Linked DNA regions of Homo sapiens: all the other regions are reported to be linked to region 1. The links are microRNA targets in miRTarBase. Many come from high-throughput screens and were not tested one by one. Region 1 holds a microRNA gene; each other region holds the end of a gene's coding sequence.
What was found. The annotated mature microRNA hsa-miR-206 reads UGGAAUGUAAGGAAGUGUGUGG and lies in region 1 at 3,306-3,327, opposite strand. An mRNA with a match to its seed (bases 2 to 7 or 8) in the 3' UTR can be bound and repressed. Matches are read on the target gene's strand: a 7mer-m8 pairs with bases 2 to 8, a 7mer-A1 pairs with bases 2 to 7 and ends in A, and an 8mer does both.

Region 1 (4,910 bases):
GGTTTAACAAGGGGATAGCATTGACTAAACTGTTTCTCAAAGGAGGTGGAAAAATCTTTGATTCTTGCAGATTTTAAAGGAGAACTCTGGATTTGTATGTTGGCCTTGTAAAAGAATGGCAACACTTACCAGCCCGAAACATCTGGAAGTAGGACCCAGAAATTAGTGCTATAACCTGCCCTTTGGGTGATTCCGATGCAGCTCAAGTTTGAGAACCACTGAACTAATAGGAGTACCCACTGGTTTCTCTCTGTTTCTAGGGAGGTGTGAGCTGTGGGAGAGAGCTGACTAAGAAGAAGAAACTCCCCAGAAAGGTGGCCTGCCAGTCTTCACGATGTATGGGAGCAGGTGGGAAAAGAGGTAGGCAGAAAGGATAGTTTGAATGATGCTAGAAAATTGTCCTTCTCCCTGGGGGCTAGGCATTGCAGCCCTTTTATTTTCTCTTCCTGATGAAGACAAGTAAAACTAAGTGGAATGCATGTGGCCTTGGAGTCACACTTATCTGGGTTCAAATCCTACCAATGCTTTCCTGGCTCTTTTGCTTCTAGGAAGTTACATAACATCTTTTAACCTGAGTTTCTACATCTGCACAGCAGGAGAAGGTTGTATCTACTCTGCCTGCTTGTTGCGAGGCTTAATGACAAGGAAGGAAAGGTGCACTGTGTCCCTAGTGGGCACCATGGACAGTGTCAGGGGTGTGGGAAAGTCCTAGAGACAATCCTGACTGCTTTGGAGGCCAAGAAGTTCACTCTCAACTCCAGCCTGTCCTTTACATGTTTCCCTTCCTCAGCTGCAAGTGTTTGCACTTCATCATTGAAATTGTTGAAACTGCTGATCAGGAAACACAGAATGAGTTTAACCAGCGATGCCAACTTCTGCAAGATGGACTCCAGCTTGGGAGCTCTGTATGGAATAAATAAGATATCCCAGACATCAAAGCACTCAATAAGGCACTGTAGAAATGGCAACAAGGTAAAAGCCCACAATGATGGTGGTGGTGAGAAAGCAGGGCACCACAGAACATGGCTTGGTTCTAGAGTGGTCTGTGCAGGGTTACGTTGAAGCTTCTGTCTTGGCTTGTCCTCTCCTCCTTGGTGTGCATTCTCCTGGCCCTGTAGTCCTGGCATCTTACCTTCTGCCTCCTCCTGCCAGTGACATAGCTGTCTTGAAGCTGCTGCCTGCCAGCTCTTCCTCTGGCTAACCTCTGCTCCTTCTCTAGCTCCTCCTGGGGAGCAAGGAAGCAGGCAGTTGTGGGGGCAGAGGGCAGCCCATTGGTCTGAAATCAGGACTGAAAAGCACATGTGTCCAGCTTGCCAGCCAGAATGACAAACCTCTTTTTTGTGCAGTTTCTTCAATTCTGGACACTTTCTCCCACCATCTCTCTCTTCTCTTCTTTACTCACGTCCTGCCCCACCCCCAGCAGCACAGCCACCCATACAACATACCCCCAGTTTCTGAGCAGAGGACATGAAATTAAACTCCAGGATAGGAAAAGGAAGTGTATCATTAGAACAGGTATGATTTAGGAAAGGGAAAACGTCATTGGAAAGAAGGACAACCTTGAGCTATCCGCCTATTTTACAGACATGAAGACCAAAGTTTTTAGAATGAAGGACAGTAATTTTCATTGCAAAATATAATGTGCCATAATATGCTGATGTCAGAGACTTCATTTATTCAAAGCACCACTATCAAAAAACCAGGTTTCTCAACCTTAGCATGTTGACATTTTGGGCTGGATATTTCTTTGCTGCGTGTTGGAGGGTTGGGGTGGCCGTTCTGTGCATTGTAGGATGTTCAGCAGCATCCCTGGTCCCCAATCCCTAGATGCCAGGAACCCCCGAGTTGTGACAATTGAGAATGTCTCTAGACACTGCCAAATGCCCCTGGGGAACGACATCATCTCCAATTGAAGGGCCACTAATCTAAAGTGAGAAGTTTCTGTGCTCAGTTCTGTAGCTGTCCCATCTCTAGTAATTTACCATGTTCTTCCAAGTTCCTTCCACCCCCCCAAAAATACAGGTTTTATGCCCTTAAAGGCCATTAGATAACTGTCTGGTTTCTGGAAGAGGTGAGAGGCTTGTGTTGCAGGTGTTACTGAGCCCAGTTAGGGCAGAGGGGAGCCTTGGCCCAGTGCTCTGGGTGCTGTCGCCTCCTTGGGCAGGGGGCCCCTCATCACCAGCTGCTGTGCACTCCTCTGCCATCTCCTATGCAAACATGGTGCATCCTCCCTTCTTCCCTCCCTTTCCTCCTCTCCCATGTCCTTGTTCTGCTGCTGCTCAGTTTCATTTGACAGTCCTGTCTTGTGCATCTTGGCACATTTTGGTCAAATCTTCTCGGGTTTTCTTTTGTGGTTTTGTTTAAGAACTCAAGGTGTAAATGTAGTGTGGTCCCAGCTGTAATTTCTCACACACACTCACCCTAAAAACAAGGAGTCAGAGGTGTGGGATGTAAGAGCCATCCTGGAATGGGGGTTTAAGTGAGGGAAGGAGGCCTCTTCATCTTCCTCCCTTGTTCTGAAACTCTTCGTGGGGTGATGGCATGAGCCTTGGGTGACTGCAGCCTCCCCTCCTGCTCAAGGCTTCCCTCTGTAGATTCAGCACTTTCTTGGTGTGGGTTCAAGCCCTTTGGAGTCAGAGCTGGGAACACAGGGGTTTAGGAAACAGAGGAGAAAGGAACTTGCCTGTTAGTTGAGTTAATCGCTATTTTAGCATCTCAAGGTGTTTCTTCAAACAGCCTTGCAGAGTCCATTTGTGACAGGGTTGTGGTGTGAAGTGGAAAGGACAGCAGAGCAGAGTCAGGGGACTGTGACCCCGGATGAACTACTTATTATGGTTTCCTGAACCTCACTCACAGCACCTGCCTCAGTACAATGCAAGCCCTGAGAAACGCTTGCAATACACATGGCTTGAAAGAGATTATGATTCAGTTTGGTTCATAGAAACCTCTCATTTCAGAAGTAATATGACCAGAGGAAGGAACTAGGAGGGTGAGGGCTGATTCTGTGAAAAACCTTTGGGGGAAAGGCCTTTCCTCACCAGGCTGGCCAGAGGAGCCAGGTCTGGGAGGCTGGCCACAGCGGGGACTGTGGGACAGCAGTCAGTGTGCCTGAAACCTTGGGCTGAGCGAGGACGCCTCAAGAGGGGGAGATAGGGGTGTTCAGGAAGAGCCCAGATGGGATTCAGAGGCTCTTGCTTCCTTGGTGAGGGAGTCATTTGCTGGCACAAAGCCCTGATGAGGAAGAAGGTCACCAAACCTGTGCTCCGGGTGGTACCCTGGGGCCAGCGAGGAGGCACTTGCCGAAACCACACACTTCCTTACATTCCATAGCAAAGTAATCCATATGGGGATATAAAGAAGCATGTGGCCTCGGGAAGCAGTGTCATCCAGAAGCAGCCCGCATCTCAGAAGTGGGCCACTTGTAGCATCTTTCCTCCTTGCCCAGGCAGGAAACTCTTAGCGAGAAGATCACTGGGATCTCAACTCATCCTAAATCCCCCCCGCCCGACCAAATCATGCTGAAATAAATCTGTTGTGAGGAATGGCAGTGCTGCTTGGGACCAAATCCTTCCTACTGTTTGTTCACAGATAAGCAGCACCACGTTTCCCTGGCTTATTCTTGTGCAGCTACAGTCTATCCAGTCCTTTGTTATTACTACTAATTAATTCACTGCTGCTGTTTTTGTGCATTTTGAATGTGATTCTTTTTTAATGTTTGGGATCCAGTGAAGGGAAAATTAAAAAGAAGAGAGAATCCAACAGAGAAATTTTCCACATTCACGCAGAGAGCCACTCATGCTTAGAAACACACCGGCCCTCCTGTACTTCCTACTGTACGTCTATCTGTTTTGGGTGCTTGTTGATGGGCAGCAGCTGCCCATCCAGCATTCCAAGCACCATTGTTCACTGTGGGAAGGATCCTTTTGTCGGGCTTCTGCTCCCCCTAGCCCATCACCTGCCCCACAATCTGTGAGGCCTGAGCCTCAGAAGGATGAGGGACATTGGCAGCTGTTGAGCCACTCAGGGTCTGGATGGCCACCCTGGCTGGAGGGAGATGGGGTTTTGAACTTTGTGGTATCTGATTCTCTGCCAGAAAATGGGGAAACATATGCCAAAGGAAGAGTTGGCCCCCAAAAAAGGTTTGAGGCTCACAGCACTGGCTGGGGTGGTTAAAAACATTTAATCACAGTAATAAAAAATAAGAGGTAACTTTTTATAAGTATGTTTTCTATAACAGAATCATTACAGTGTTTTGCGTATGTGAGCACCTTGACTCCTACCTACTCTATGAAATGTAGCCATTTTATCTGATTTTACAGATGAGGAAAATGAGGATCGTAGAAATGTATTAATTATCATATTTATAAATGGTAATTATTTAAAAAAAACTAATCAGATTGGAGGCACAGTTTTGGATCAACCCATGGAGAGAGGCTTAGAAGGTAAAAAAAATGTTGAGAAGGAAGAAAAGGAAACACTATGGGTTTTTGACTTGGTGTACCTTTATCCTTTCTGTAACTCTGCGCTTGGGGTGTTGTTGATGGAGGTGGCTTAGAAACCATACTGTTTCTTAGGAAAATAGGAAAATGTCTCTAGCATCCCAGTCAAAATCTTTCGGGCTGACCTTGGGAATCATCCAATGGCTCATCCAATTCCATCCAATGGCTATGTAAGCTTCTGCTCTGAAAACACTGTTTTCTCCCATAGTCAAGTATGAACTTCATAGAAGTGAGAGTTTGGGGCTACCCTTCCTTCTCTAAGTTTGGGGGCAGTGGGCAACCAAAAACACACTATCAGGGGCTGATGGCAGGGAGGCAGCTTGGTCAAAGGAGGAAGGAGGTGTGTCTGTGCCTCTAAGAAAATAAAAATGTCTCATTTCTTTCATAGAACCAGGGAACTTAAGAGCTGAA
Region 2 (4,910 bases), not on the chromosome of region 1:
TGTGCAGATAGGCCTCATTGGCTGGGCCCTAGGTGATGAACAAACTCAGCAGCAGAGATCAGAGAGCAGAAGGCATCTGCAGGTAGAAGGCACTGTGCAAGGAGCCAGGAGCAGAAGGCATTAGGAGGCAGAGGACAGTGGGAAGAAGGCATTCAGAAGCAGGTTTGGGACCTTCACAGGCAGAGGATACTGTACAGAGAAGTTTCACAAGAGGAATACATTCTGGGGAGGAAAATCCACAGGCCAAACACAATCCTAAGCAAGGAGCAGTCCCCAGAGGACATAGAGATGCATGGGTAGGAGACCGTCACAGATACAAACCTGGGATAGAAAGGAGGAGTCATGGTAATGGAGGAGGCCCAACAATAGGATCGACTTGCTGTTTCAGAATGACCCTCCCCTATTTTTCCTTTAGGTCTTTGTGTCACACTGTCACCAATTAAAAGTCCTACAAATACCTAGTTAGGAGCTACTGTTGCAGTCCTTGTCATTTGAATTAGTAAAAGCTCTTCCTTCCTTCCCATTGTAACAAGATGAAGGCCAAAGTTGGGGTGAGAAAATAGCTAGAGGGACACTAGTCCAATGGCCCTGAGGCCCCTACTCAGTGGCAGAAGGAGTTCTCGGAGTATTATGTCTATCTTTGGACTTCCTGATCACCCTTTCCTGTCCCTGGGTTGAATCAAGACTTGGATCGCATGCAGATTACACTGGTACACATCTAGAGGAATGAGTTGGAGTATGTGTTGGGGTCACCTTTGAGGAGGGCCTTTGAGAGATGTGTATTCAGAATTACTGTCAAGGAAGAGTTAGAGGGACCAGGGGTGTTTAAATGTGAGAAGAGTTGACCAAGACAGAATCTGAGAAGTATTTTCATCTATTTTAAGAGCTGGCATCTAGCGGAGGGATTAAAGACCACCAGTGGGTGACATACAGAAATGGACTTTAACTCAACTGAAGAATGCATCTTCTAAAACCACAGACAGCAGGGGCTTGTAAGGAACTGAGCTCCTGGTCACTGGAAGTGGGCACTAATGACTAGGTGGCTGTCTGTCTGCAGTGGTAATCATGAGAAGGATGGACCGCCCCCGCTCTCTGCCGCCACAATACAATATTCTTCATTAAGATTTGATGTGTCTAGAATTCCACAGTTCCTGTGCATGCCCAGTGTCTAGAGCTTGCTATTAAGTACTTGTTTACTTTTGTACAGAGAATGGCTTCAGGCAATAGGAATAAAGAAATCACACAGCTGAATACACCAAGTTATTACACTTCAAAAGAAAACTTTAACACTGACACATGTGATATCTTACCATTTATTATAATTGCGCACATTAGTGTGGATTAAGTATGATTAGAAACACTAAGCAATTGAAAAGAAGCAAAAAGGTAATGCATCCCTCTTCCTCAGATCTGCAAAATTCTGTGCCTTTTTAGACATGAGAGAGGCTGTTTTGGATCTAAGTCAATAATGGCTCTTGCAAGATTTCTTTCAATGTCTTGCATGTTGGTTCTAAAACTCCCTTAAAGGCAGACTATACCTTGAACGGGGGAAGCCAGCCTATCTTGGGCCTCTTTACCTTGCCTTTCATCCACTGGTCCTGCACTGAGACTCAGGGATAGCACCTCTCACCAACGGGGTGACTTTTATTTCCTTCACTCATTCATTGAGTGCCTGTGTGTTAGTGTCCACCACGTGCCAAGTCTGATGTTGGGGACTACAGCTGAGGAAGAGCAGTTGGTATTTAGTGTGGGTACATGCCCTCCAGAGGAAATCCACTACAAATAAATGGAATGTTCCTCTCTGATCATTTGGCAGGAAGAACAAGCCCACAAGCCAATGTGCATAGGGCTCAGAAACTGGAGAAAGACGTAGACATTTTATAATTAAATCAAGAGCAGAGGCCCTCATTTTGTATCAGAAATACTCTAAGGTTGTTCTTCCTTTCAAGGAACTTACAGAGTGATGCTGGGCCCACAGATGGCAGAGTCCAGCTGAACCTGAGCAGAGGATCGGCTGACTGCATGGACAGGCTTACATCTGCCCAGCCATCCAACGAGTTTCCATGTCCCAAGTACCTGGGGCCCCAGCAGTTGCCACTAGCTTAAGGCAGAGTCTAGACAGGAAAATGGGTCACTGAAAGCTCTCTGCTCAGATCAGCTAGCCCCCTGGAGCTTTTCCTGGATTCACAAGCTCCTCTTTGGTAATGTCTGTGAGTCAAATCTGTTCTCAGCTGAAAGCATCTCAGTTTGGAGGCATTTTCATGGGCGGAGAGGAGGGAAAGGGGCAGCTTGGCCCTTGAAGTACTTCATGGGGGGGGGGATAATTCAGGGATCCAGGATGCCCAGAGGAAGAGTGTGATTTCACACCTTCTGCTCTTTGCAAGCCTATGCCTTTGGGAGGCCTGAAGGGAGGGTGTTAACCTGGCAGGAACTGTGTACCCTCTGCACAGTGCTTGGCACACACTGAGCACAAAATCAATGCTTGCTTTTGTGGGTGCTGCTCTGGGAAGAGCATGGGCTCTGTAGCGTTCTGCGCAATGCAATAGCCACCTCTCTGAGTTCCAATATCCTCATGTCTAAGATGGGATGAGAATATCACCTTCACAGGATTATTATGGGGATTAATGCCATTACTCTGTGACAGTGCCTGCTATGTGGTAGAGCCTCAAGAAATGTTAGCTGCTTTTCCACCTCCTTAATCCTGCTGGGATCTATACACCCTAAAACCCACTTGGGAAGATTTATGTGTGAAGTTCAGGGAGCAGAATTGAGGGCAAATTAATCAGCTATCAAGATTCCAACAGACACAGATATCACTTTGATCAGTAGCATCCTAAAATCACATCCTACTGAATTTAAACCTAATTGTGTAAATTTTCCAACACATGCCAACATACCTGTAAGGGAACACTCAAATATAGTGAAAGGTGAGTGGAAGACCAAATGAAAAACTGCTATATAACTCAATCAAAAGCAACTAACTACTTTTACAAGTGTATGGAAATTTAAAAAAAATAGATATGGCAAATAGACAAGCTAAACACTAGCCTATGCCAATCCCTAGCATTTGATGTCTGCAATTTACCCACCAGGGATCATCAACAGTCTTCAACTTGGCCCATTATAAGCCTCAAGGGAGTCAGGACACACTGAACCCTACACTTCTGCCCACTTAAACTCATTAGAAAGCCAATCTGTCTTAGGGAAGCCAAGATGGAATTCCTGTTTGATCCTCTTTGGTTGAGCCTGAAATGACATCATGGGCATAAAGCGCTTTCTAAGCTACAAGAAGCTACACACACAAGCAATTATCATAGCATCATTAAGATACGATATTGGATGTATGCAACTTCAACTTGAGAAGGGCAAAAGCATGAAGAAATCAAACAGGGAGGGAGGAGGTGAGGGAAGGGGAGACAGCAACTTGGGGCAAAACTGGGGACAGCCAAATTTGTCCACGAGTCATCAGCTTCTGATCAGCCTGGCGGTGGGGGGTCGCTAAAAGAAAACAGAAGTAGCCATGAGACTGGAAACACATCAGCTAGAGGCCCTCAGGGTGGGTGACTGCTCCAGTCATCAGGAGTTACCACCTAGCTCAAGGTGTGTCTTCTGGAGAGAAGACCATCAGCATGGAGCTAGTGGAAAGCCTGGTTGCTACTGCCTTCAAGGGATATATTCTGCTCTGTGCTCAGACACCGTGATAAATTCCACTGGCTATGAGCATGCAAACACACATCTTCAGGCAGTTCTCATAATGTGGCCCAGAGGCTTGTTTCACTGAGCACCATGGCTATGCAGTCCTGATCTGAAGCTATGCGAGTGACAGTGAACAGAGAGCCCTGGACAAGAATCCAAAGACCTGGGGTGAGGTCCTGATTCTACCTGGGTTTCTCCAGGTCCCCTCCCTTTCTATATCTTTATTTCCTTGTTGCAAAATGGGGCTAACAACAGCGGCCGAGCGAGTATCCCAGGGTAGCTAGAGGGCTCGGCTCAGGTGCTGGACGGAAGGTGTGATTTGGAAGTGTCCTCATTGAGGGCCTTTGTCCATGCCACCTAAGATCTCAAAGTATCACAAGGCATAGGGACATGAGGACACAAGGCCCCCTGAACATAAGGAAGAGCCAAGAAAGATAGCTGTGTCTGGGGCTGAGACTCCAGGAGAGACCAGGGTGCATCTCTACTCCTTAATGAGTCTCTTGGCCACTTGTCCTTTGCAGTGCCAGCACCCACCTAGAAGAGCTTCTCATAGCATTTCCCACAGTGAATGGTGTCACGGTGAATGAAGATCTGATCCAGGAGATCGCCCATCGGTTTACTGCAAATCCCACACTGAAAAGAAAAGCAAGCTGGAGGTCAACACACAAAGCAAAGCAAGAGGAATGAGTGGAGTGGGAAGGGGATGCCTGAACAAGGTGGGCGAGCAGATGCTGTGAGCCCGTGGCACATCCTGGACCTCAGGACTTGCAAACATCACAAAATAATACAAAAAACATCACAAAATAATACAAAAAAAAGCCTTTTTTTTCAGTAGGGAGTAGTAAGCACAGCTAGCAGCTCAGCTACTTTCAAGGGCCAGTGGGCAAGCAAAGGGGAACCTGTTTGGCATGATTTGACCAGAAATGTGTTTCCCTGTGGTCAGCCGGTTCTCAGGAGAAGCTGCTAAGTGGGGCATGTTCTGCATTGCAGCACTTACTTAACCAGGAGCAAGCAAAGTTCAGGCCCTGTGGGGAGGACAGAAGCCTGCCTAACATTCTGTCAAGGCAAAGGGGAGGGTTGTTTTTCTCAGTGCACCCAGAGGTGACACCCTAAATGGATTGGAACCAACAACCTGGGGTTACAAAGTGCCACACACTGTGGAGAATGGGGACCCCAATGTCACTTAGAATAAAATCCAAACTCTGTGCCCGCCA
Region 3 (4,910 bases), not on the chromosome of region 1:
ATTTAGATGGCTCAACTGACTTACCTATGGTAAATGGGCTGTTTTTAGTCTTGAGGGCAGTCCATCACTGGGAGGTATCCACAAGGTAGGAAGAGACCCCTACACAATTAGATGCCCCTTGAACAAAGATCAGCAAACTTTTCCTGAAAAGAAACAGATTATAAATATTTTAGGCTTTGTGAGCCATGTAATCTCTGTTGCAACTACCCAAATCTGTTATTTTAGGCCAAAGCAGCCATAGACAATATGTAAATGAATGAGTGTGTCTGTATTCCTATAAACCTCTTTACAAGAACAAATGGTATTCTAGATTTGGCCCATGGTCTCTGCTAGAATAAAAGTCCCACATTTGGTTTTTATCCTACTAGTATTCCTGGTTATTTTAGGCATTGTCCTTTCTAGAATTCACTATGGGTATCTGCCACTGCTTGAGAAAGCTGCTGAGAATCAACACTGCAATATATTGTGGAAATATGCTTTGGGGGCACCAAGTATATGATGAATGATGAATGAAACCGAGTTCTGTGGTTAGATCATTTCCAATCAGAATAGAGACTGAGGCAGGATTGGAAGATGTGCAGATAACATTCTTAGAAATACTTCTGTAGAGGGAAAATGTCATTATGAGTTTAAAATAAATTACTATATGCCCTGAACTTTAGTTGTGTAACTCCCTCAGTGAATTCACTTAAAAAACACTTTATCTCTTCTTTGTTTTCAGTGGCTTATGAAAGGAGTGCAATGCAGAATTATGAAAGAAGACGTTAATAAACTACCTAACATTATTTATTCAGCTTCATTTGTGTCAATGGGCAATGACAGGTAAATTAAGACATGCACTATGAGGAATAATTATTTATTTAATAACAATTGTTTGGGGTTGAAAATTCAAAAAGTGTTTATTTTTCATATTGTGCCAATATGTATTGTAAACATGTGTTTTAATTCCAATATGATGACTCCCTTAAAATAGAAATAAGTGGTTATTTCTCAACAAAGCACAGTGTTAAATGAAATTGTAAAACCTGTCAATGATACAGTCCCTAAAGAAAAAAAATCATTGCTTTGAAGCAGTTGTGTCAGCTACTGCGGAAAAGGAAGGAAACTCCTGACAGTCTTGTGCTTTTCCTATTTGTTTTCATGGTGAAAATGTACTGAGATTTTGGTATTACACTGTATTTGTATCTCTGAAGCATGTTTCATGTTTTGTGACTATATAGAGATGTTTTTAAAAGTTTCAATGTGATTCTAATGTCTTCATTTCATTGTATGATGTGTTGTGATAGCTAACATTTTAAATAAAAGAAAAAATATCTTGAAGATTTTTGTCACATGTCTTTTATTAACATTTATGTCCAATTAGCAATCTTTCCTTTAATAGGTGAAATAGGTTCAAAGCGGTTTTGTCTAAAATGCAGTTTCTCTGTCATGCACTTTTTTTGCTAAATCACTTGTCATGAGATCATTTATGAAGAACACAATTGCATTTTGCATTCCAAAGAGTAAAGGCTAAGTTCTGGTTTTATATGCTTTTAATTCCTTTTTACAAATAGGATAATAATCTATTTCAAAGATATATTTCACTGATTATTTTCTTGTTGAGTAAAACATCAGCTCACTACCATTTCAGCCCTGCTCAGAGCCCAGGTATAAATGCATCAGTGCCTGAGTCTCACTAGCATTAAGATAGCAAATCAAATTCTCACAAAGATTGTCGGAAGATGATACAGGAAGATGAGGTGTTGATAATAGGGCAACACCCTCACAGCAAAAATAAGAACTCCTTTCCAGCATTTCTAAGAAGTGCCTGTGAATTGCTAATACCTATAACACTCTCTCTGTCTGATAGAAGCACATGCGTCAGGAATAAATACCAAGCATTGAGAGGGAGGCTTGTGCATTTTGATTGATAAGTGTCCTTGGAATCATTTTCTGATTGCATAGAGCATGTGAAGTATTGACCAGTGGTGAAACAATGCAGACAAGCACTGTTCAGTGAAGTAAAAAAAATGAATTTAGCCTGGACTGGTGACTGTTGGTGAGCAATAAAACCATTTGTAGGAGAGAAGAGCTAAAGCATATTTTAACATACATATTTTCAATTAAATGTTTTTTTAAAAAACTCCAACTCATATTCCTTAGTACACAATACATCTAAATATGAAAAATTATATAATGGTAAGCAAAATGGAGAAAACCAGAGTCATCCCCTAGAGCCCCACTCCCCAACAGCAATGTTTAACATTCCATTGAATAATAATTATAATAAATAATCATTAGCTAAAATTATATATGTACTTAATCACTCAATGACAAAAATAATCGTCATTATTATCATTTTACAGATGGGGTTATGAAGCTTAACAAAATGCTGGGGTCAGAGATTATAATAGGAGTCAGGATTGGAAATAAACTGAGGGGGAAATAGAGCAAATATCTAACAATGAAATTGATTAAGCAAACGTACTAAAACAACAGAATATTATACAGTCATTTAAAGCAGCATCATGGTGTATTTAATAATGTGGAACATATATGGTATGTTGTTAGACATAAAGCAGTATTTGTTATATATATATTTACATATGTATTTACACATATATATATAGTTTTTCTGCATAGCTGTTGTAACAAGAGGAACAATTTTAGTGGATAAGCACATGGGACTCAATGTCATACTACTCAGGTTTGAATCTTGGCTCTATCACATTATGAATGGCCTTGTAAAGATGGGCGAGTCCCTTAACTTTTCTTTGCCTTATTTTCCTCATCAGTAAAATTAGAATAACACTAGTACTCACTACATGGCATTCAGCTGAGGGTTGAGTGAAATGATGCCTGTAAAGCTTTGAACACACTCTCTCACACACAGCGAGCATTCAGTGAATGTTACCTGTTCCCATTTTAAGCTACTGTTCAAAATGCCAGTGTGAAAATTAGTTCTATATTTTAGCCATAAAAAATGTTTATAGTCACTAGACACACTGAACAAGCAACAGCATGGGGTGGTATTTAAATCTTTGCTTCACAAATTAAATCCAGGCTATATCACAAATTTGCAGTGCTTTGTGCTGTTCATTGCTGCACTAAATAGTCCCCGTGGCTCCTTCCCACTCTGAAATTCTATAAATCTCTGTGGTATGATCCCACAGTGCTACATAAAGACATGCATTGGCGGAACTTCACTCATGCCTGCTTTCCCTCTAGGCCCAGAAACCCAGTAGCAACACAAATAGGAAAAGGGACAGAAACTTCAGTTTAAGTTTCTGCTCAAACAATTTATTATTACTTTCTCTTTGTGCTATATTTCCTTTAAAGTAAGTTTTCTTCACCTATATTCTTTCTTATTGTATTCTGTTATGAAACAGCAAAAAGACCAAACTATATAAACTTACCTGTATACATTATTGCTTTGGTTTTTGTTTGTTTTGTTTTTGTTTCTGCATTGGTCAGGGCCCAGGGCAAAAATAAATTATTTTCAAGCTAATTTGAGAAGGGGTTAATAAAGGGACTAGTTACAAAGTTATGGGCAGCATGTAGAGAAGCTAGTAATGGTATATGGTTCTCCATGCTATGTCCTTGGGAGCAACAGCTACCCCTATGCCAGAAGGATCAACGTGAAGAAATGAGGGTCCCTGTATGCAAAAGGCTGCTTGATGGCAGTTGCCTTCAGTAAAAGAGTGGAGCCAAAACAAGGTGTTCAAGTATGGATGGGAGGAGGAGAGTGGGGTGACCAGGTAATAAATATCCCATCCTCATTGCCACCCAGCTGTCTGATCTCCTGTCGGTACCTCCCACTGGGCAAACCCAACTGGAAAACAGAAGAGTAGGAGCCCTTGAATGCTGTCTACACAAGTAAGCAGCACATATAGGGCTCTTGAGCATGTGGAGAAAGCCGGCAGCTGCATTGGTGGGGTGGGGCAGGGGACGCAGAAGGAAGATATTCAACACGTGTGCTCTATTATCTTGAATCAAAGGGAAATTAATAAGCAGAAATCCAAATAAAGGAAAGTATACAGTAACAATAAAAGTCCTTCTCTACATCCCCAGGGATATAGTTTCACATGGATCCATCCAAACAGACAAAAATAAGAGCATCTTGTCTCAATTTGAGCACGTGCTGAAATCTCTCCTTCTAACACGAAATCATTATGAATGATTTTTAAAGGTATATTTTTAAGGAAGTTAATACATATGTTGGGATTTGTGCAAAACACAGGAAAGATTTTTATTAGATCAGAAATTTTGTAAATCCCCAAAAAAGAAGCAGAAGGGAAGCCACAATAGTAAGCCATAGCCCTAGCAGGAAATTGCAGAGGCTACAGTGGAAGGTGCCAACCCCAGAATAAGGAATTGACCACTGCAGACAACAGACTTGCTAGCAATACTGGATGAGTATTGCAGCCATGAGATAAGGGGACAAAATATTCAAAATTCTTAAGGAAAACAGTATTTAACCAAACTATCATGTAACAGTGAGGATGAATTTGTGGAAGAAGAAAAGCCAACTAAAAGCTGTTAACTTAAGCCTTATTAAAACCATTGCAACATGAGAATAGCTCAAAATAGCTATTTCTGCTGAAGAGCAGAAAGCCTAAGGAATTTATATGTTAGATTAGCCGGGTGCAGCAGCTCATGCCTATAATCCCAGTGCTTTGAGAGGCTGAGATGGGAGGATTGCTTGACGCCAAGAGTTTAAGACCAGCCTGGTCTTAGAAAAGCAAGACCTCATCTCTACAAAAAATATAAATGAAACATTAGCTGGGCATGGTGGCACACGCCTGTAGTCCTAGCTATTCAGGGAGCGAGGTGGGAGGATCATTTGGGCCCAGGAGTCTGAGGTTAAGGTGAGCTATGGTTGTGCTACCATATTTGAGCCTGGGCAACAGAGAAAGACCCTGTTTCTGAAA
Region 4 (4,910 bases), not on the chromosome of region 1:
ACTCATACCTCTGAGTCCCCAAAATAAATTCTAAAACATGAGAAAATAGCACCCCTCCCCGCTTCCTGTTTTTCAAAAGTGGGAAAGGTGATCTGACATCTTTTGGAAACTACAGTGTTGATGGGAGTCCATCTACCAAACAGGAAGCAGGTTTTACAGTTTTGCTAGAATTGATGATGTTCTCTAAGCACTTTTCAGTTTGATTTAGAAATCTTCATTAGGAGGTTATTTTCAGTGGCAGACTTGTGAGACAGAATTCAGTATTCTCAGAGAAGAGTTTAAATAATTTAGAACGAATTGTTTTAATTCAAAATAGTTTTCTCTTATGTATACCTCATTTTCCAAGAATAATATAATTAAAGTTTTAAGGAGAGAAATCGAGGAGAGAATTCATGATTCATGTTATAGTCTCTAAACATTTCAGTCTCTTTTTTTCTATGCTGTGGGATTTTTAAAAACATTTATGCATCTTTCATTTTGAATTAATATACACTAAAGAGAAAACACAGTACAAAGAAGAAAAATCAAAGATCATCCATCCAAACACCAGTTAATACTTTGGTACATTTTTTTCTAGTTCTTTTTCTTTGTATAGATACTTTTTGGCATTAGTCATATTTTTAAATCCAATTCTACAATAAGGTACAACCAAACCAAAATAAAAAGTACAGGAAGAAAAGCGAAAACACAGTAACAGCTGTCTGGCTGGAATATTGATAATTAACCATATACCTTCTCTCATTTTCTCCCAGCTACATCCGATACTCCCAGATCTGTGCAAAAGCAGTGAGAGATGCACTGAAGACAGAATTCAAAGCAAATGCTGAGAAGACTTCTGGCAGCAACGTAAAAATTGTGAAAGTAAAGAAGGAATAATCTGTAAGTTATGGATTTATTTAGAAGAACAGTTGCATCTTAAGTTTTTGGAGCACCATAAAGATCAAAATAATTTTAGTTTTGGGTTCTATTCATTTTTTAGTCAGTGTATTTGGAAGTTAGTTATTGGGATGGTATAATTTAAAGCATGCAGGTTATAGAAGTCCCCTGGCCTAATAAAAAGAAAGTCTTCTTGGGCCCTGACAAGCAGAAGTAATTGGCACATTGATTTTCAGTTCATTTAGCAATGCTTAGGTAGAGAGCCATCGTATTTGAATTAAACCTGTTTCATTTGTCTGCACAAATCAAATAATTTGGAGGATGAACTCCCCACTTGTATAATTGCAATTGGAGTTACATAACAGTCCAAGAGCATGAAAAACTACAGTTCTTTACATTTTTATTTCCCCCACAACCACTAATGTTCTCACAAATCACTACTTCCCGAACATAATAACTACAGGCACAGGCAAGGGTCCTGCTGTTGTATCAAGCAATAAAATCTGCAAGACCCCGCAGCGAATACTGTTTTGCTAATTTATTATGCTTTCAGAGGGTTTGGTTCATTTTACTTTTCCAAAGATGTTGGTGATGTAAAGTTAAATTCTCGTGAAATAAAAAGGTCTGTACAGTTGATAAGTGTAGACTTTTGTGTTCCACATTATAAAAGTGGTTTGATCTCTAAAGTACTTTCTTGACATTGTTATTTCAAAAGTAGGCAAGGCAAATTATCAGAGAGATGTTTTTCAGATTTAATTTTTCTTGTTTTGCTTTTAAAAAGCTTCAGACCCATAATAGCACAGAAATGTGATAAATATTAATCCTTTGGCAGCTTATGGTTATGAGCAATTTTACTTATTGGAACTGTCTCCCCTAAGCACTTTTCATTTTCATTTTGAATTAGTAAATATTTTATTACAAGTCTGGAGATGCAGTGTTTTGAATTTAGCCCTTTTTCTAGGGGCTCTCTGTCTAATCTCATAATTCTGAGTAATGAGACCTGGTTTTATGTTGGGTTGTTTTGTTTTAACAGTAAGCTAACAGAAAATCATTTAGCCTCACTCGGCTCAGAGCTGCCAGACTGCATCTAATGCTGAGATTTTGCAAAGTCCTGGGGGTCAGGAAGTAGTGTCCGATCCCCTTAAACAAAGCATTAGCCCCTCTCTGTTATGCCCTTCAGGGTTACAGACCCCACCTCATTAGCACAAGGAGATGTTAGTGTCTTTTAAAGGCAAAGTAGTTTCTTTATTCTGGGAGAGTGTTTACTTTTACTCAGCAGGAAAATGCCTGCTTGACTAAGCCTGTGTACTTGAACCAGCACTTTTTACATCTGAGCCACGGCAATGTGAATGATAGCCACAGTTATACAGTTCACTATAAGGAAGTTATTTCTTATATTCATGTTGAGTTTTTAAGAAAACACAGAGAACTAGCCAGCAACTTGCATTTTCTTTTTCCTCCTAGACCCTGACTAAAGCTTGAAATGCTACATTTCCAAGGTGAAGATGTGTGGGCACATGTTATGGCAGATTGAAAAGGATCTCATTCCATGGGAAAAAAAAAAATCCTGTCTTGTTCATAAATTGACAATGTCAATAAATTGAAATATGGTTCACTGTTACTCTTGATTTTAGTTTGTGAGACTTTTTCATTTTCTTTAAAGGAACTGTCTGCACAGCTGCATGATTATGGCCATGTGAACCAGGGTTTCTTAAAAGCAGGGGAAGCCAGATTTAATATTTAGTGACCAAAGGGATACAGAAAGCATTTTGAAAATGTCTCAAAATAGTTGTTTCATGACATTAATTGGTGATCAAAATTATCTGCTGTCATTGAGGCTTCGTAGTCCCTTATTTTTGAATTGTTGTCATGTCAGAATAATGACATGGTTATCAGTAACAAATGGAAATAATTATTAAATACTAAAAGTGTAGATTAGAAGAAGAAATACTAAATTGTACTTGTTTTGTATTGTGCACTTAAAGCCTATAGATAAGAACGGTTACAGAATTTAAGCACAAAGTGTTTTTCACATTGTTTTGTAAATGAATCTTTATACTCTGGTAGCATTTCTCATAGGAAATGAGGCAAAGCTATTGAATAACTTGCTCATTGAGTTGATGGCCAAACTGAAATTAAAACCTAGGAGTTTTGACTGCAAGTCTGGGACACGGTGACCACAACAGCAGTTTCGTGGTATTTCCATAGTGATTCATTCATTCATTATTTAGGGATGAAAAATTGTTGCAAGTTATGTTTTTATCTTTCTTTGAAACTTGAAAGGGCTTGGGCAAGTAAAACACCATTGCAAAGTTAACTGCCTGATTTTAACTGTTTTTGGAGACTGGAGAAATAAATTTGAACTGGAAATTTTGAAACACCATTCTAGGATCAGTTCTCACATGGTACTTAAGCTCACAATGATTTATCAGGGCCACTGTCAGCAATGCCGAGGATAAGCCGAAAAGAACATCTTTGTTCTCGGCTTCTGGGAATGACTTATTGTCCCGACACTTGACCTGTAGGTTTTACTGAATTCTCAGCACAGAGCGAGCAGGGAGGCAGAGCCAATTGAGTGGAAGAGGGTGCCTCTGGAAAACAGCAGGTTAGGAGCCCTTGGAGTCCTCCGCCTCGGAGCTGTCATCCTGCTGTTGGCAAGTTAGGGCACCTCAGTTCAGTGCTGTGGCCCCCAAGATTAAGGTACTAGGAAGTATCCTCCATTACAGGGAACAGGAATAAATGAATCAAAAAGCTATCGGGCCTTTTTGACATGGGACGAATAAAGTAACTAATAGGCAAAGGGGCTAAATGATTTCCAGTCAAGTAATTAGAGATAAGTCATTTATTAAGGAGGCAGATGGGGTATTATTGGTATATAGATGGCATAGTAGATTGCTAGTATATTGGTAGATTATTGGTATATAGATGGTATGTTAAGGAGGCAGATGGGGTATTACTGGTATATAGATGGTATGGTAGATTGGTAGTATATTGGCAGATTATTGGTATATGGTATGTTGAGGCAGATGGGGTATTACTGGTATATAGATGGCATAGTAGATTGGTAGTATATTGGTAGATTATTGGTATAGAGATGGTATATTATTAAGGAGGCAGATGGGGTAATTAGAGGTGAGACTTAGGGACAGGGCTTGTGATATGGAAAGGAGTGAAGTCACTGAGTAAAAGACAAGTTTACTGTCAGCAGAGATTCTTAGAGGCTCTTTTCTCCGTGATTAAAAAAAAATCCTAAACCAGTAGTATAATAAACTTCCTGCCTCCAGCAGTGCTGGGTAGCTGGCAGGATGACTGTGCCCAGTGATGAGGTGACCCCAGTCAGACCAACTTAATGAGTATCCCACTAATTAGTTGGATGATGTTTGAAGCTGTCAGTTAATCTCTTAGTTCACATCGTTCTTGTGAGCAAAGTGAAGGAATCGGATAAGCTCTAAATTTCGGTGATGCTGCTGCTCTGAGAGACCAAGGTCGCTGGAGCAACCGTACTGCTAAAGGATAAGCTCTTCAAAATCAAAAGGGACAGATTTCTTAAGTTTCTAGTTTGTTTTGTGTTTTTACATCTATTTCTACCATACGAAAGAGTAGGATGGTGAGATGCATTTCTAAATATTTTTAACTACTCAGTCTGGATGGTTAGGCTTCAAGAAAAGGAATTTATTTAGTCTGAAATAAAGCAATTTTGCCATTTAAAATTGAATTACTTTGTAGTTTAATGATTACTATTGAGCAAACAAATCTTTACAGTAATATAAGTCAGCAAAAGTTTTTTAAAAGGTTTAAATCCCTCCTTCCTTACATCTATTTCATTGCTTTTTTAGGTTTGGGAAGTAAAGCACCAGAGGAAGCATGTGTAAATCCTTGTATAATCGCAGGCTGTAAGTCTTTAGCATCTCAGGAAGTTACTAACTTCAAACTAAGTATATAGGTAGAGTTTCTTACTAAATCTAGTGCTTCTTGAACCACAAGTAGAAAGCATTTAAAACATGAATGTTGTTTTGTGTTTTTTGAAGTTTGTA
Region 5 (4,910 bases), not on the chromosome of region 1:
TATATTTTTCACATCTGTTACTCTACAATGATCATCGGTGTTCATGACGATGATCCTGCAAGGCTTGCTGACATCCCGAAGAGGCTTGGAAGATCAGTTACATTTTACTTTTTTTTTTTTTTTTGAGACGGAGTCTTGCTCTCTCGCCCAGGCTGGAGTGCAGTGGCCACAATCTCGGCTCACTGCAACCTCCGACTTCTGGGTTCACACCATTTTCCTGCCTCAGCCTCCCAAGTAGCTAGGACTACAGGCGCCCGCCACCACACCCGGCTAATTTTTTTGTATTTTTAGTAGAGACAGGGTTTCACCGTGTTAGCCAGGATGGTCTCGATCTCCTGACCTCGTGATCCGCCCGCCTCGGCCTCCCAAAGTGCTGGGATGACAGGCGTGAGCCACTGCGCCCGGCCACATTTTACTTTTATTATGCATTGGTTCCTTGAAAAATCCTCTGGGATAGGCCTAACAACTTTCAGTTATTCAGAACTCCCATCTCTCCAATCAGTTTAGCATCTGTCTGTTTTGATGTGATGTCGCATTTGCAGTAAGGAAGTGATGGCATTCACAGTGGTACCACTGTGTAGATTTCAGACAGCCCTTGCAATTCCCCTTTCTAGAAGTTCCTCAGATGTCCAAAGGCATGCCCATGGTTAGCAAGGATAAAGTTAGAGCTGGATTTTTTGTAGCCAGGTTTATTAGGGCACATGTTTAAAGTCAAAGGACCAGTTAGACTCTTAGTAATTGTTCCTCACCTCACCAGCTTATTTCCACTTGACCTTAATAATGCAGGAAATAGGAGAGTGAGCTAGGAAAGTACCCTGTTTTCTGTGGAAAGACGAGGACGAGAGAGGAAAGTTAGGGTGTTTGTAGGACCTTGCTGCAGTAAGAACAGCCCTGGTCACTAACCTATGTCAATCCTCAGCACCTTGCACTCCCTCCACCCCACAGTCCTAAGGAGCCTTGAGTGTCTTCCCCAGCACCTCCTCCGACCACACTCCTGGAGGCTTCCCTGGCAATGGTTTGGGTGTGGCCTTCCAGGCCTTTGTATCAGGGCAGGTCTCCTGCAGAGTCTTCTCTTTGTCATGGGAGAAGCTTCATTGTGCGTTGAGGCTACTTCTGTGTTATTGAGGAGTCTGGGCTTTTTTCTGATACCACGTTTCTTTTCTTTCCTGGGCCATTGTAGCAAGACACTAAGGGCGACTACCAGAAAGCGCTGCTGTACCTGTGTGGTGGAGATGACTGAAGCCCGACACGGCCTGAGCGTCCAGAAATGGTGCTCACCATGCTTCCAGCTAACAGGTCTAGAAAACCAGCTTGCGAATAACAGTCCCCGTGGCCATCCCTGTGAGGGTGACGTTAGCATTACCCCCAACCTCATTTTAGTTGCCTAAGCATTGCCTGGCCTTCCTGTCTAGTCTCTCCTGTAAGCCAAAGAAATGAACATTCCAAGGAGTTGGAAGTGAAGTCTATGATGTGAAACACTTTGCCTCCTGTGTACTGTGTCATAAACAGATGAATAAACTGAATTTGTACTTTAGAAACACGTACTTTGTGGCCCTGCTTTCAACTGAATTGTTTGAAAATTAAACGTGCTTGGGGTTCAGCTGGTGAGGCTGTCCCTGTAGGAAGAAAGCTCTGGGACTGAGCTGTACAGTATGGTTGCCCCTATCCAAGTGTCGCTATTTAAGTTAAATTTAAATGAAATAAAATAAAATAAAATCAGTTCCTGAGTCACACAATCCACATTTCGAATGCTCAGCTTTCACATGTGGTCAGCAGCTAGTATATCTGGACAGCGCAGGCAGGGAACATTTCGATAGAAAGTTCTGTTGGGCAGCAGTACATGCCCAGGGCATGAGAGGACCTATGGGGGAGAAAAAGGGTCCCAGAGGGACCCCTTATCTGCTTATCTTTCTACAGGTTAATTAGGTGAAAATAAGCATCAGGGGCAGCCACAAACTGGAGAGAGCAGTGGGGCAGGGTGGGGCAGGCTACAGCATTCTGGCAAAGGAGATCCAACACAAGCCGATGGGAAGCACGGAGAAGGGATTTCTTTTGACTGGGAGGATTGAGAAAGATGATAGAGAAAAGGAACAATTTGAGCTGCACACTAAAATCTAAGGTGAGGTTTTACAGCTGGGAGAAAGCACTCCATGCAGGTTCTTAAGGGTCTGGGAATGAATGACAGGTCGCTGATACAATGGTACACATGTCAAAAAGTTCAGAGACTTCTTTCTGTACAGGGAAAGTTATGTCTCTCCCTTACTAGCCAGTGGCCTTCCCTGGAGTCGCCTGGTTTCCAGTACATTTTCATGGATAGACTGCATACGCATGTATATATATGTATCTATCTGTGTTCATAAATGTGAAGGTGCTGTCCCCAGGCTGCTGGTACTGGGTTCTGCAGATTCCTTTTTATACAAGTGCTCCCCATAAGCAGGGTAGAGGGCTGGGAGTGAGGGGAAGTTGACTACTCCTCCTAACCCTTCTCCTTAGTGGAGGGTGTGTCAACTACTCATTTTTGGCACCTGGCTGATGCAGGGCCCACTCAGTCATCTGCAGGGACTAGGTAGGTAATGGAAATGAATGTATGAAATGGGCAGGTTGGACAGAAGTGGGGAATCTGGGGAAAATGGGGAATGCCTGCCTTGCTTGAGGCATTCAAATTCAATTCAAACAACAGTCGTAACAACATGGCATTGACCAAACCAAATACATCCGTGAGCTGATTGGCTGCTATTTTGGCCCTTTGGCAAACTTTAGATGGAAATTTGGATCGAGCATGGCTCTTGGGTCACTAGTGGCCCATAACGTATGTGAAAGGCCCCTGAGATAGTCCTTAAAAAGCAGGTTATGCAAAAATCAGGTATTTTATCAAATGTGTCCTGCCTATACATATTAAAATGGATGCCCCAAATCACAGAATATACTGTTCTGTGTGCTTGGGCAGAGTTCAAGGAACTGCCTAAGAAGCAGGACCTTTCTCATTAACCCCAAATTATACTGAACTCAGAATTGATAGGGCTGGGCAGAGACTGTCAGGAGCAGTGTTTCAGATCAGTGAACATTTAGGCATTGTTACCTCTCAATCATACGTGTGTTTCAGGCTGCAAAGGGAGCAGTGGTGTGGAGCAGACAAGGCCATGGGGTGAATATGGGGAAACTTACGCTCCCACTGTGCCCAGGACAGTCTGGCCACTGGTGTGGCCAACAGGTATGTGGGAAAGTTGAAAGGGCAGGCCAACATAGGAAAGGCGCTTGGAGAACTGTTTCAAACACTGTCTACTGTTTTTCCTCTATACAAAGCAATGGCAGTCCAGTGTTTTCCAAAACTCACAGCCAGGGCACTTGAATTTTGGTCCCATTTTCTTCTGGATTTCAGCCTGTCCTCTTCAGTCAAGCTGTCCAAACTGTTTCATGAATAAAGAGAACCATCTGGAGGTTTGACTTATTCTCCCCAGAAATTTTACTTTGCAAAGAGAAGGAAAAGGGTACCTGGCAGGCTGTGAGTTGGTAACAAGAACTTTGATTTTATTCTTTGAGGAATAAAAGGTAATTGATGCAATGTAGCTATGAAAACTTATTGTACTGTAACACTGTGATCAAGAACATGATTTTTTTCTCCCTGCCTTGGTGGGGCTGGGCAGAGCCATCATGTTGCACAACCCCAGAGAACACTCATCCTGTTGTAGTCTATGTGAATGATACCTCCCTTGGTGTTGTGCAGTGCACAACCTGTGCAGCCATACATGACAGCCCTGTATTGTGACCTAGGTGTGTGTGAGATGGTCTTTTCCGCCTTTTGCTACAGAGTTGCCCTTCCAGTTAAAAAAGTTAGAAGGCAAATCTTATTGAGAAACAAATGGGTGAACCCCGAAAGGTCTTGACTTCTCCATGGACTTGATCTTCAGACCAGTTTTACTGGGCTATGCACAAATGGCTGTATATATGAATCTTCCCCAGTATGTGAAGTTCCCATGGTATAAACTATTAGTAAATATAGCTACAGCAGGGAAAACCAGGCTCACAAAATGGCTACATTTAGCAAGACAAATGATTTGAGGACAGAAATCTTTTAAATCAATTTTTAGTTTTTAAATGACTCCCGTCTCCAGTCCTCTCCCTGTGTTTTGACAAACGGCTTTGGCTTCTTATCCACATCGGTTTATTTGACCTCCTTTTTCCATCAACTACCAAAATGAAAACTCTGCTGCAAGAGCGAGGAGAGAGAGTGCGAGCAATTTTAAACATCCCTTAGCAGTGAGGCAGAACATGCTACAGCCATCAAGTTCTAGTTGTTCATTCTATTTATTGAGAAAAGCTTGTAGCCCGATTTCTTTTACGCGAGTACATTTGAGCAAGCAAAGTTTATAGAGATGACTTACCTCATTACATTAGAAGAGTGATTTGCTATCTCAGCATCTATAAGCAATTTTAACAGACATTTCTGGATGAAGAAAAGCTTTTGTAAATATATGCGAAAGACACAATTTCATCAAGCATTAAATTGGAGGTGCCCTGGAAAAATATTACATTTGTGCACTCAATTAGCTTGATTGTGGCTGAATTTTGTCCACTGAAGGCAGCATTTCTGCAGAAAAACAGAAGCATTCCCTATGTCAGCAGGTTTCCTGAAACAAAAACACTTTCCCCTGAAACAAAAACACTTTGCCAGTCCTCTTTTGCATTTGTGCTGTTCCCAGCTCTGTGTCCCTAATCAGGCCTCTCGGTCTTGTTCCTCGCAGTAGAATGTTAGAGGAGAGGGAACCAGATAGAAATCCCTGACAGAAATCCAAACTCAACAATTCCAGCTTTAAATAGCCTGCATTCGGTGCAAAAGCTAGGCAAGCTCTGGGCAAAATTGGGAGGGAGTCAAAGGTAGACTTAAGTCTTCCTGGTCTCCTTACAGGGTC

Region 2: miRTarBase lists ZNF185 as a target of hsa-miR-206. Seed matches in the 3' UTR shown: 8mer at 1,788-1,795.
Region 3: the mRNA of TAC1 is a reported target of hsa-miR-206. The part of its 3' UTR that is shown has no 7-base or 8-base seed match.
Region 4: the mRNA of ATP5F1E is a reported target of hsa-miR-206. Seed matches in the 3' UTR shown: 7mer-A1 at 2,420-2,426.
Region 5: the mRNA of ANXA2 is a reported target of hsa-miR-206. Seed matches in the 3' UTR shown: 8mer at 1,438-1,445.

Annotation. Positions count from the first base shown.
Region 1 is chr6:52,142,818-52,147,727 of GRCh38, reverse strand. MIR206 (microRNA 206) reads right to left here and starts at 3,379; the gene lies at 3,294-3,379. LINCMD1 (long intergenic non-protein coding RNA, muscle differentiation 1) reads left to right here. Exons shown (of 3, transcript NR_131248.1): 2 at 261-360; 3 at 791-914.
Region 2 is chrX:152,969,862-152,974,771 of GRCh38, reverse strand. It overlaps ZNF185 (zinc finger protein 185 with LIM domain), which reads right to left. Exons shown (of 25, transcript NM_001395254.1): 24 at 4,231-4,329; 25 at 1,298-3,498. The coding sequence ends at 4,231. Among named protein-coding and RNA genes, the nearest start is that of PNMA5, 22 kb to the left of the region's middle.
Region 3 is chr7:97,739,153-97,744,062 of GRCh38, forward strand. It overlaps TAC1 (tachykinin precursor 1), which reads left to right. Exons shown (of 7, transcript NM_003182.3): 7 at 722-1,320. The coding sequence ends at 768. Among named protein-coding and RNA genes, the nearest start is that of TAC1, 9.5 kb to the left of the region's middle.
Region 4 is chr20:59,026,272-59,031,181 of GRCh38, reverse strand. It overlaps ATP5F1E (ATP synthase F1 subunit epsilon), which reads left to right. Exons shown (of 3, transcript NM_006886.4): 2 at 753-879; 3 at 2,341-4,910. The coding sequence ends at 876. It overlaps SLMO2-ATP5E (SLMO2-ATP5E readthrough), which reads left to right. Exons shown (of 6, transcript NR_037930.1): 5 at 753-879; 6 at 2,341-2,504. TUBB1 (tubulin beta 1 class VI) reads right to left here. Exons shown (of 4, transcript NM_030773.4): 4 at 4,528-4,910. Among named protein-coding and RNA genes, the nearest start is that of ATP5F1E, 3.6 kb to the left of the region's middle. RefSeq lists an enhancer at 1,838-2,368.
Region 5 is chr15:60,343,960-60,348,869 of GRCh38, reverse strand. It overlaps ANXA2 (annexin A2), which reads left to right. Exons shown (of 13, transcript NM_004039.3): 13 at 1,181-1,719. The coding sequence ends at 1,240. Among named protein-coding and RNA genes, the nearest start is that of ANXA2, 52 kb to the left of the region's middle.